2 linked regions of the Homo sapiens genome follow. The protein of the gene in region 1 interacts with the protein of each later gene in a pairwise test. Each region holds a gene or a part of one and is shown on either strand. Other genes may lie near its edges.

Region 1 (4,081 bases):
TGCCAAAAGATAGCTGGAAAAAAAATCCCAAAATATTTGGAAATTATACACTTCTAAATAACCCATGAGTGAAAGAGGAAGTCACATTTGAAACTAGAAGATATTTTGAACTTCATGAAGGTGAAAACACAACATATTAGTATCTGTGGGATGCAGCTAAAGCTGTGCTTAGAAAAAAAAATCCAGCATTAAATATTTATATAAAAGAAAAATATTCTCAAATCAGTGATCTTAGCTCCCCAATATTTTTAAGATGTCAGTTTTCCCCAGTTTGATCTAAAGAACACAATTCCAGTCAAAATTTCAGCAGGCTTTTTTGCAGAAAATGACAAACTGATTCTAAATTTTATGTAGAAACCAAAAGAATTAAAAAGACCTAGAAAAACCAAAATAATTTTTGAAATGAAGAACAAAATTGGAGGACTTATTTTTGAATGTACTAAGGACATGAGTTGTTGATACAAGAAACAATGGAGATACTCTCAATAGCATTATGCTAAGTGAAAGAAATCAGACACAAAAAGCAACATACCATAGGATACAGTTTATAAGAAATTCTAGACAAGTCTAAATGATGGTGACAGAAAACAGATCAGTGGTCCCCAGGGCCAGGGGCTGGGAGAAGGGAACTGGCTGCAGACAGATGCAGAAACTTGCATGGTGATGGGAATGTCCCATGTCTGGATAACGATGGTGGTGGTTATATGACTGCATGCATTTGTCAAAACTCATCAAATTGTACACTTCAAACTGGGAAGTTATTTTTCAATAAAGCTACAGTAATTAAATAAGTCACTTTTTTTTTAATTGCTGTCAAATAGAACAAGAGTGAGGACGTGGAACAGCCAGGCAGAGCCAGCCTGCAGCGGATGGGGCCCAAGCAAGTGAGGACTCAAAGGCCCCAGGAAGTGGGGCTGGATTTCAGGCTTTTGGGATGAAGCCAGCTGAGAGAGGCTGAGCCTGTGTCCCCAGAAGCTCCAGGAGAGGATTTGAGGTGCTGGAGGGGGCATCGCAATGGAGGGGGCACCTGAGCAGGTGGAAGGAGCTGGGCTCCAGGTACCTGGTGTGGGAGGATGCACGTTTCCCAGAGGCAGCCGGGAAGTAGGGTGGGTATCCATGAAGAGGGGTGCATCTGAGTGCTCACGTGGAACACGCTTATGGGCTTGGGTTTGCCCTGTGAATTGGGAGCTGAGAAGGGCAGGCAGATGGGAGGCTAGGTGAAGGGAAGACCCCTCAAGGCCTTCTCACACCCAGACACCAGCTCCCAGGGCTGACCTGGCACTGCGTCCCTGGCTCCCATCTTGCTCCCCCGAAGGACATCTGCCTAGGCGCCCCCAGTGGGTGTCAATGATGACCTAGCCCCTAACCCCCATCTAAAGCCCCTCCCCAAGGCCTCAGCTGTCAAACTGTGAAAACCCCAGACCCAGAGGCCTCTTCAGGGTCCAGGGAGGAGCAGCAGCCTGGGGCTGTGGTTGCCCTTCTCCCCAGCCTCACCCCTCCCCACAAGTCCCACTCCTCCCCACAAGTCCCACTCCTCCCCACCAGGCCCCAGCCCTCCCCACCAGCCTCACCCCTCCCCGCCAGCCTCACCCGTCCCCACAAACCCTCCCCTCCCCGCCAGCCTCACCCGCCCACTAGCCTCACTCCTCCCCACCAGTCCCACCCCTCCCCGCCAGCCTCACCCCTCCCCGCCAGCCTCACCCCTCCCCATCAGTCCCACCCCTCCCGGCCAGCCCCAGCCCTCCCCACCAATCTCACCCCTCCCCGCCAGCCTCCTCCCCGGTTCCCATCAGCCATCAGCTCTGCCCCACTCTGGATGCCCTGGACTGACTATGTGCAATTCTCCCACACGACTCTTCTTTATGTGCAGAAAATGCCAAGTCTCACTGGAGCGAGTGGGAACCCACAGCTCCCGAGGACAGACTGGAGATGACCTGAACCCACTAATCAACCACGAAGATTGCTTCTTTGTGACTTTTGGGCAAAACTCACGAGGGCAGCTGCAGGACACAGCCCGGGTTGCTTTGACAGTCACTGAATCCACTTCTCCCGGTGGGTGGGGGCATGGCTATGGAGCCATTCGGGCTCCTGCCCTGGAGGGTGACTCTGGGGCCCATCCTCCCGAGTGAGAAGCAGGTGGGTGTGGGGAGCTGGGCTGGAAAAGGTGGGGTCTGGGGCTGTGGGCCCTGTCCCTGAGAGTCCCCAGCCCTGAGTGATGCCACCTCTCTGGGCGGTCACTAGCCTGGGCCCAGAGATGAGAGACTGATGTGACACACACTCACCCCATGGGAGGGAGGCTGCAGGTTTAAGGGCCCTCCTCAGGACCCTGTCAAGTTCCCAGAATCCCTCCCAGAAATACTTTTATTAAAATAAACTGAGCAAGGCCAGGCGGCTCAAAATGATCCACACAAGGGGGTTCAAAGATAATCCAACGATGGAGACAGGAGACAGGGTGGGAGGGAAGCGGGTCACGAATGCACAGGAAACAGCGGGACTGTGGGAGGACACCCTGCAGCCTCGGGCCCTCCAGCTGGGCTGACAGGCAGGCTCTGGGCTTTGGAGGCAGTGAGGGTCAATTCGGGGCTCCATGGGGCGTCCTGTCCCTGTGTGCCTTCTGCGTGTGCTTGCAGAACAGACCATAGAGCACCCTCAGTGTGCTCTTGGCATCCTTGTTCACGATATCTGCGGGCCAAAGGAGGGCAGGGCAGCCAGTCAGGCCTGGGTGGCAGTGACCGACTGTCCCGATGTGGTCAAGGTTTCCTGGCATTCAGGATTTCAGTGCTAATCCCAGGAGAATCCCTGGAAGCCAGGACAGCTGGTCACTCCAGGCCTGGGTCCCGCGCCTGCTGCGTGACTGCCTCCTCCTCCTGGCCAGTCCTCCTCTGAATGCTCCTGTGGTGCCCCCAACACAGCAACTCCTCAAGGTCTGGCTTCTCTGGACAACCTGTCCCCAGAGACCTTGGTCTCCCCCTCCCCAGAACCTCTTCCCCTGGGGCTGCAGTGCCCCCTCCCAAGAAACCTTGGCAAGCGCCCATTCTCCACCCCTGCCAGGCAAGAGGACTCTGCCAATGCGTGCTCATCCCCCAATGCCCTGCACCCTGTTCTGTGGCTCTCGCACAAGGCTGCCACCCAGGGCTGGCCACCGTGTGGGCATCTGCCTTGCACTCACCTTCAGGGCTGACAGGGCAGCTGAGCAGGCCCTCGTCCTTCAGCAGCTCCAGCGCCAGGGTGACGTTGTGCAGCTATGATGACAAGGCCCTATCAGATGTGGGCACAAGCAGCAGCCCCAGGCCAGGCCTTGGGTCCCAAGTGCCAAGCCCTTCCTGTTGTCTGTGATGTCCATCATGAGCCTAAACTCCCATCCAAGGTGGGCATCCCTGACCACGACCACAATCCGTGGTCATCCAGCATCTCCCTACAGCTCACTCTGTCACACAAGCAATCCATGTCTCATTCCTCAGCCACTCACAGGCCCCACTCTGAGCAGGTGCTATACCACACTGGGCACACGCTTGCGTCCAGGGGCCACTGCCCGTGAAAAAGGCAATCGCCAAGGAGGATACCCAATAGGGATCAGGGAAGGCTTCCTGGTGGAGGTGAAGCCTGGTGGTGAGTCCCGCCAGGCAGGGAGAACTACCCAGGGAAAGGAGCAAGGGCCTGGGGTGGCAGAGCACCTTTGAGAACAGCTGTTTCCCAGGGCAAAGCACAGTGAGGAAATCAAGGCTCAGAGGAGCCAAGGGGCTCACTGGAGCTCACGAGACAGAAAGCGCTCAAACCAGGTCTGTCCGCTCCAATGCTCATGCAAAGCAGGCTAGAGACTGGAGCGGTCCCCACCCAGGTGGCTGTCCTTTCCGCCACCCCTTGCCTGGGGTGCAGTCTCAGAGATGGCTCCCTTTAGGGTGGAGAGCGCCCGGGCATCAGTCAAGTCCCCCAGTGATTCAGAGCTCAGCTTAGTCCCTGCCCAGGGCCTCCCCTTGCTCCCCTGCAAAGTGGGCTCACCACAGTTCCCCTGTGCCTTGCTACAGGATATGGTGAGAGCCCAGGAGCCTGCCGGCCCTCCCACAGTAGGTCCCCTCCCTTT
Region 2 (7,036 bases), on another chromosome or scaffold:
TGCTTCCTGCCCTCCTCACTCTGGGAAGGGAAGCCGTCCCCGCCCCCCACCCCCTCTCCAGGAGCCAGCTAGCTGCACCCCAAGACCCCCACCTCGGGCTCAGCCCACAGCTCCCAGGAGCCAGCCCTGTGGGCAGGGAGTGGCTGGGCCAGGTTTCCCTTCTACTGACTCACCATGACCTTGAGTAAGTCACTTCCCCTCTGGGGTGTCACTTCCCCATACACAGTATAAGGGGTTGATTTAGTTGGATTGAACTAAAGGTGAGGGAGTGGCTCAGGGTGTCTCCAGGTGGGCTGACCCCTCAGTTGGGCCCCCATGCTCAGCAGAGGTGGCCCACAGTGGTGGAGCCTTAGGGTCAGAGACACTTCCTGGCTCTGCCTCTTACTAGCTGGGTGACTTGAGGCAAGTTGTTTAACCTCTCTGTGTACATTTGCAAGTGCAAAATGGGTAAAATCCCAGATTACTCCACAAGGTTGTTGGAAGATTCAGTGTCAATATGTAGCATAGTTGGTGCTCAATAAACTGAAGCAAGTCTTCTTATCTAGCGAGTGAGGAAGGGGCCGCCGAGCTCTCTTAGCCTTCTGACCTCCTACGCAAGCAAGAGGTCATGTTGAGCCCAGCTCGCCTTTCTTTTCCCAGTGCTGTCAAGCTCTGTGCCTGGCTGCCCTGCCCTCTGACATCTCTCTGAAACCTCTTGCCTCCCCTCTCCCTGCCTCAGCTCAGTCTGTGCACTGACCCACCTGAGGAGCCTCCTGGGGCCACTGGCAGCCTGGACCCCCCCAGATCCCCCCCACCCAGTGAAATTGTCTTCCAGCACTGCCTCACAAAAGCCTACTTGATGCAGTGCCAGGCCTCTTGCCAGATGGCTGGGTGGTCCCTTAGGCTTGGACCCAGTCAAGCTGCCCTGCCTGTGTTGCTGGGGCTGGGCTAGAGGCCTGGAAGGGGTTTATCAGGGTCACCCTCTCAGGGCCTGGGAGATACCCAATCCCAGACATTAAAACTGCCAGTAGCCCCTCTACCTTCAAAGCCAAGTCCTGGTCCCTTCCCCTGGCATTCAAAGCCATCGTAAGTGAACTCTCACCCGCTAGGCAGCACACGCCATTCTCCTTTACCGAGGCCCACCGCTTCCTCAAAGTCATTCCTGATGGTCTCAGCTCATGCTGGTGGCAGCCATTTCTCCCAGCCTACTGTCTCTACTCATTGCCACAGGAACCAGGGACTCCCAGCTCAAGAGCCTGAAGGATTGGGGTCAGGGGAAATTGGCAGTCGAGGGCTTGGGAGTGACAGCCATGTATGGCCTACGAAGTCCCAGCTGTCAACTTAGGTCCCATTCAGGCAGTGTTCACAGGGAACCGGGAGATAACAGGGCCTGTTCCTGGCTCTCAAAGGGTCCCAGCAGACCCCTATAGATGGCCCCCGACAGGGTGCTGGGGGGTGAGAGGTCCATAAGAGCCCCCGGTGGTTTCGGGGAGGAAGCTGCCCCCTGCATGGGCCAGAGGGCATATCTGGTAGGTGGAGTGGCCTGGGCAGGAGGCCAGCAGGAGCCTCAAAAGGCAATGGTCCTCCTGAAACACTTGGGCTTTAGCCTGAGCGTGGCTGTTTGTGGACATCATAGCAATTTCTGGACTGTGGGGGAGGGTGGTGGCGGTGAATAGATAAGCATCGTGACTGGGGAAGCTCAGGTGAGCACCACCTGAGGGAGAGGGTCTGGCAGTGAATAAATAAGCAGTGTGACTGGGAAATTGTGAAGCTCAGGTGAGCGCCACCACCTCCTGGGTTGCTTTAGTGTCCAGCAGCTGCCTAGAACTATGTTGAATGAAGAGCTCTCTGGGTTCTGGAAGTGGGACAGCTTTGGGTGGGGCAGTGTTACCACCGTCAGCCTGGCTTGGGTCTGCAGGGTCCAGGGCCTCGGTCACTTTGCTTCTCTCTCCACAGCTCACTCCTGGGGGCAAAGCGGCGCAGGCCGGAGTGGCCGTGGGTGACTGGGTGCTGAGCATCGATGGCGAGAATGCGGGTAGCCTCACACACATCGAAGCTCAGAACAAGATCCGGGCCTGCGGGGAGCGCCTCAGCCTGGGCCTCAGCAGGTATGCGGGTGGACATGGATGGGTGCGCCCGCGCTGGCAGTGGGGATCCCTGCGGGCCCGGCCCGCTGTCACGCTTTCCTTCTCCTCCAGGGCCCAGCCGGTTCAGAGCAAACCGCAGAAGGTACGAGGCTGGCCGGGACATCCGGGCGGTGGGCGGTGTGGGCTTGGACGGCCAGGCCTGCTCGCCCTCCTGGCACATTCTCGGTACCCCAATCCCTGGCCGGGAGTGGAGGGCAGAAACCGGAGCTAAGGCGGGTCTAGGGCCCTGGAGTTGAGCCAGGGGCTGCTGCACGGTCCTGGCACCACGCATGTCCGCCTGTCTGTCCGCCTGTCTGTCCGCCTGCTGCCTCCCGCCGCCGGCGCTGCGTGCTCGCCCGCACTCGGTCAGCCCTCGGTCCTGCGTGGACTGAGATCGCCACTCCCAAATGGGCCCCTTGAAACCTGAGTCGTCCTCTCCCCGTAGCCTCCAAATAGATGTAGGGGGTGGGGTGGGGGTGGGGGGCTGGAGCTGCCGCTGTCCTCTGCTGCAGGCGCCCCACTTCCACCCAGGCCCCCACCTTACCCTGCCCGCCCGCCCTGCCCGGCTGTGTCTCTGCCCAGGCCTCCGCCCCCGCCGCGGACCCTCCGCGGTACACCTTTGCACCCAGCGTCTCCCTCAACAAGACGGCCCGGCCCTTTGGGGCGCCCCCGCCCGCTGACAGCGCCCCGCAGCAGAATGGGTACGTCGGCCCCTGCCCGCCCGCGCCCACGCCATCAGGCCCACTGTGGCCCCACGCCCGCTGCCCGCTGCTGCTCAGTCTGTGCTGCGCCCCAGCCCGGCGGAACCGTGCGGCAGCGCCCCCTGGCGGCCGGGGTGGGGCTGCAGGCACAGGGCCCCTCCCGAGGCTGTGGCGCCTTGCAGGGCACCGCCCTGGGGAGGGGTCTCTGAATGACGCCGCGCCCCCTGCTGGCGGCTGGGGGTTGGGTTGTGGTGTCGGGCCAGCTGAGCCCCAGACACTCAGTGCCGCCTTGTCCCCGGCTGTTCTGACCCCTCCCCGTCTTTCTTCCTCTCCTGTGTCTGTCCCTTTGTCCCTTTATCTGTCTGTCTGTCTTATTTCCTTCACAGGTGCAGACCCCTGACAAGTCAGTGAGCCCCCCTCTGCCTGTGCCTTTCTTCTTCCTTTTGGCACTCTGGGTGGCGGCCCCTCCCCACCCTGGCTGCCCTCCTCTCCACTTCGCCCTCCTGTCCTCTCACCTACCCGCCCAGCAGGGCTCCTGGCCTCACCCTTACCCACTCCCTCCCATCACTGTAACCCAAACCCACATGCACCAAATCCTGGGAGGGGCTGCCCCCACCGCCCACCCCCAGTGTGGGGTTCTGAGCCACACCCTCCCCACAGACAGCCGCTCCGACCGCTGGTCCCAGATGCCAGCAAGCAGCGGCTGATGGAGAACACAGAGGACTGGCGGCCGCGGCCGGGGACAGGCCAGTCGCGTTCCTTCCGCATCCTTGCCCACCTCACAGGCACCGAGTTCAGTAAGTGCCAGCCCAGGGCAGGGGGTACTTTCCTCGCCCCCAGCCCAGGCGTGATCCCTGACCCTGTGTCTTTTTTGGTCAATGCCTGCCTCTGCCCTCTCAGTGCAAGACCCGGATGAGGAGCACCTGAAGAAATCAAGGTACAGGGACGGGCACCAGCCCCTCTCCCACCTCCTGCCTCTTCCATTCCAGCTACTGCCCTGTGTCTACTCCTGAGGCTCCCAGCTGGGGCTCTCAATTCTCCCTTCCTTCCTTCCTTCCTTCCTTCCTTCCTTCCTTCCTTCCTTCCTTCCTTCCCTTCCTCCTTCCTTCCTTCTTTCATTTCTTCCCTCCCTCCTTCCTTCCCTCCTCCCTCCCTGCCTCCCTTCCATCTCTCCTTCCTTCCACTTCTTCCTCCCTCTCTCTCTGCCCCTCAGGGAAAAGTATGTCCTGGAGCTGCAGAGCCCACGCTACACCCGCCTCCGGGACTGGCACCACCAGCGCTCTGCCCACGTGCTCAACGTGCAGTCGTAGCCCGGCCCTCTCCAGCCGGCTGCCCTCTCTGCCTCCCTCTTTCTGTTCCTCCTGCCCAGGGCACCCCCTTAGTGCCTCCAGCTTCTGCCTACCTCACCCCCCCTTTCGTGCCCCTGGCCTGAGCCTCCTGCTGGCCTGGCCCTGGCCGCCCACCTGGGTTCATCTGACACTGCCTTCCCTCTTTGCCCTGTGGTACTGCTGTCTGCCAGGTCTGTGCTGCCTTGGGCATGGAATAAACATTCTCAGCCCTGCTTGCTCTGCCTGTCTTCTATCTTTGTGGACCTGGTTTGCATTTGGGGTGTGGGGGTGTTTCGTGGTTCGGACTGTTTGGGCCCTGCCGTCCTCGTTTTCAGTGGGAGGGGGTACCTGGCAAAGGGGCCCTGCCCTGCCATCACAGATGGCTTCCTGGCATGAGGGGAACCCCAGGAGCTGCCTCAGAAGCGGGAGCCCTGCCTCGTCTCCCAGCTAGAGACCGCACACCAGCTAACTGGACATTGCTAGGAGAAGCTGCCCTTCCCATCCCTACCCCAGTGGGACCTGGAATCCAACTCGGCAGTTTCCACGCCCCCAGTCATCTCCCGTGGGGCCAGCAGGACCCAGGTTGGGGGGTGGGGCCATGTCAGGAAGCTCAGCCATGCAGGGCCTTGAATGGCAGATCTTGCAGCCAGGTGCCCAGGACAGAAGCCCCAGCCCCAGCCTCATCTACACCCCAGGAGCCCTGGCCTGGTGAGAGGGAGTGGGCTCGGGCCTGGGCAAGGGTGGGCAGCCTCCAGGGGCATGGGGGTGGTGGGCTTCTCTCAGCTGCCTGGGGCTCCACCCCCGTCCTTTGGGGTCCCTGGGCACCCCTTTAGAGTCACTTTCCCCGGCAGGCCCTACCGCCCCCAGCCCTACCAGCCGCCCGCCCTGGGCTGTGGACCCTGCGTTTGCCGAGCGCTATGCCCCGGACAAAACGAGCACAGTGCTGACCCGGCACAGCCAGCCGGCCACGCCCACGCCGCTGCAGAGCCGCACCTCCATTGTGCAGGCAGCTGCCGGAGGGGTGCCAGGAGGGGGCAGCAACAACGGCAAGACTCCCGTGTGTCACCAGTGCCACAAGGTCATCCGGTGGGTGGCCTGTTCCTGTCCGACCCTGGCTTTCCCATCCTGCAGCCCAGCCCCACCTGTCTGCCCACCTGTCTTGCCTCAGCTGCGACTGGGGGGAATAAGGATTCAGTTCTCAGCTGGAGTAGGAGTAGGGACCTGGGCTGGGTCCTCCCATTCTTAATCCCACGCTACCTACCCCAGCCCACCCACAACAACTGCTAGCAGCATCTGCCGTGGCGAAATAGCCGAAGGGCCAACCATAGGCTGAAGCTGCACCCCTACCTTTGCTGCTCTCTGGGCAAAGAGGGGCCTGCCCCCTCCCAGCGCGTCTGCCCCTCCCTCCTGCTCTCTGTCTCCCTCTGCTCTCAGAGCATACAGGCCTGGAGCCACTCCCTCTGTGCACTGCCCCGTGGGGCCAAGCAGCATCAAACACCCCCCAGCATCAGCGTGCCGGATTCTAGAGCCTTCCTAATTCGCAGGCCTGGCCTGCTCTCATCTCTGTCAGCTCTTTTTTTTTTTTTTTTGAAACAGAGTCTCACTGTGTTGCCCACGTTGGCGTGCAGTGGCGCGATCTCGGCTCACTGCAACCTCTGCCTCCTGGGTTCAAGAGATTCTCCTGCCTCAGCCTCCTGAGTAGCTGGGATTACAGGCACCCGCCACCATGCCTGGCTAATTTTGTATTTTTAGTAGAGACGGGGTTTTACCATGTTGGCCAGGCTGGTCTCAAACTCCTCACCTCAGGTGATCTCAGGCCTGCCTTGGCCTCCCAAAGTGCTGGGACTACAGGTGTGAGCCACTGTGCCCAGCCGACTCTATCAGCTCTTGCCAGGTAGAACAGGCAGGCCAGCAGGACAGGGCAGCTCCAGGGTTTGCCCAGGGGCGGCTCAGCTTTTATGAGGCTCCAGTCGTCAGCCCTTCCTCCCGGGGTCCTCCCTGCTCTAAAGCTGCCTCTCCTGTCACCAGCAGTTCAGTGTGGCGGACTGGCTCTGTAAGCTTCACGGCTGCCACGGTCACTTCCCAAGCCTGTCTTCTATCCTATGTGGAAAATGGGGAGAATGAACTGTCCCTCCCAAGGCCTCCTGGTGGGTGGTCAGTCAACCTGAAGGGGGCCAAGACCCCCACCTCTCTGCGTGTGCTCCCTCTGACCGCTCTCGCCTCCCTGCAGGGGCCGCTACCTGGTGGCGCTGGGCCACGCGTACCACCCGGAGGAGTTTGTGTGTAGCCAGTGTGGGAAGGTCCTGGAAGAGGGTGGCTTCTTTGAGGAGAAGGGCGCCATCTTCTGCCCACCATGCTATGACGTGCGCTATGCACCCAGCTGTGCCAAGTGCAAGAAGAAGATTACAGGCGTGAGTAGGGCTGGCTGGCGGGGAGGTGGTCCCAAGCCTGTCAGTGGGAACGAGGGCTGCTGGGAAACCCACAGTCCAGGTCTCTCCCCGAGTGAGCCCTCCGGGTCCTTACCAGCGTAATAAATGGGCTGCTGTACTGGCCTCACCCTGCATTAGTCAGGATGCTCTTAACAAATGACCATGTTCCTGCTCAGAAACCGCCCAAGGCTGCAAAGAGCAGGAGGACCAAGCCAGGAGAAGCCCTGGGCCCTCCTGACTCCCACTTTGGGCTCTCCCTGCCCTGGTGAAATGACAGAACGGCCAACTTGACACGCTGAAGCTGCTCTGTCTCATGCGTCCTCCTCATTTCTGGATCCAGAGCCAGGGCTGCCAGGAGTAGCCAGAGAGCTCTGTGTGGTGATGTTCATATTAGTGAGGTTTACCTTGACCACGAGCAGTGGGAAACTCAAAATAATGGTGGCTTATTTCTCATCTAAAAACATCCCGGGGTG

Evidence for each region. Proteins that work in one complex are often made in the same cells at the same time.
Region 2: the proteins of PARVG (region 1) and PDLIM7 interact in binary tests that used the Homo sapiens proteins (3 or more experiments, as listed by UniProt).

What each region holds. Positions count from the first base shown.
Region 1 is NC_000022.11:44,204,918-44,208,998, reverse strand, and holds the end of PARVG (gamma-parvin), read right to left. Parts: intron 3,243-4,081; coding exon 3,170-3,242; intron 2,683-3,169; coding exon 2,573-2,682; 3' UTR 530-2,572; downstream 1-529. UniProt on the Homo sapiens protein: Plays a role with ILK in promoting the cell adhesion and spreading of leukocytes.
Region 2 is NC_000005.10:177,487,577-177,494,612, reverse strand, and holds part of PDLIM7 (PDZ and LIM domain protein 7), read left to right. Parts: intron 1-1,935; coding exon 1,936-2,087; intron 2,088-2,177; coding exon 2,178-2,208; intron 2,209-2,687; coding exon 2,688-2,806; intron 2,807-3,192; coding exon of another isoform or gene 3,193-3,209; intron 3,210-3,466; coding exon 3,467-3,603; intron 3,604-3,706; coding exon 3,707-3,743; intron 3,744-4,019; coding exon of another isoform or gene 4,020-4,116; exon of another isoform or gene 4,117-4,367; intron 4,368-4,581; exon of another isoform or gene 4,582-4,780; coding exon 4,781-4,842; intron 4,843-4,985; coding exon 4,986-5,220; intron 5,221-6,364; coding exon 6,365-6,545; intron 6,546-7,036. UniProt on the Homo sapiens protein: May function as a scaffold on which the coordinated assembly of proteins can occur. May play a role as an adapter that, via its PDZ domain, localizes LIM-binding proteins to actin filaments of both skeletal muscle and nonmuscle tissues.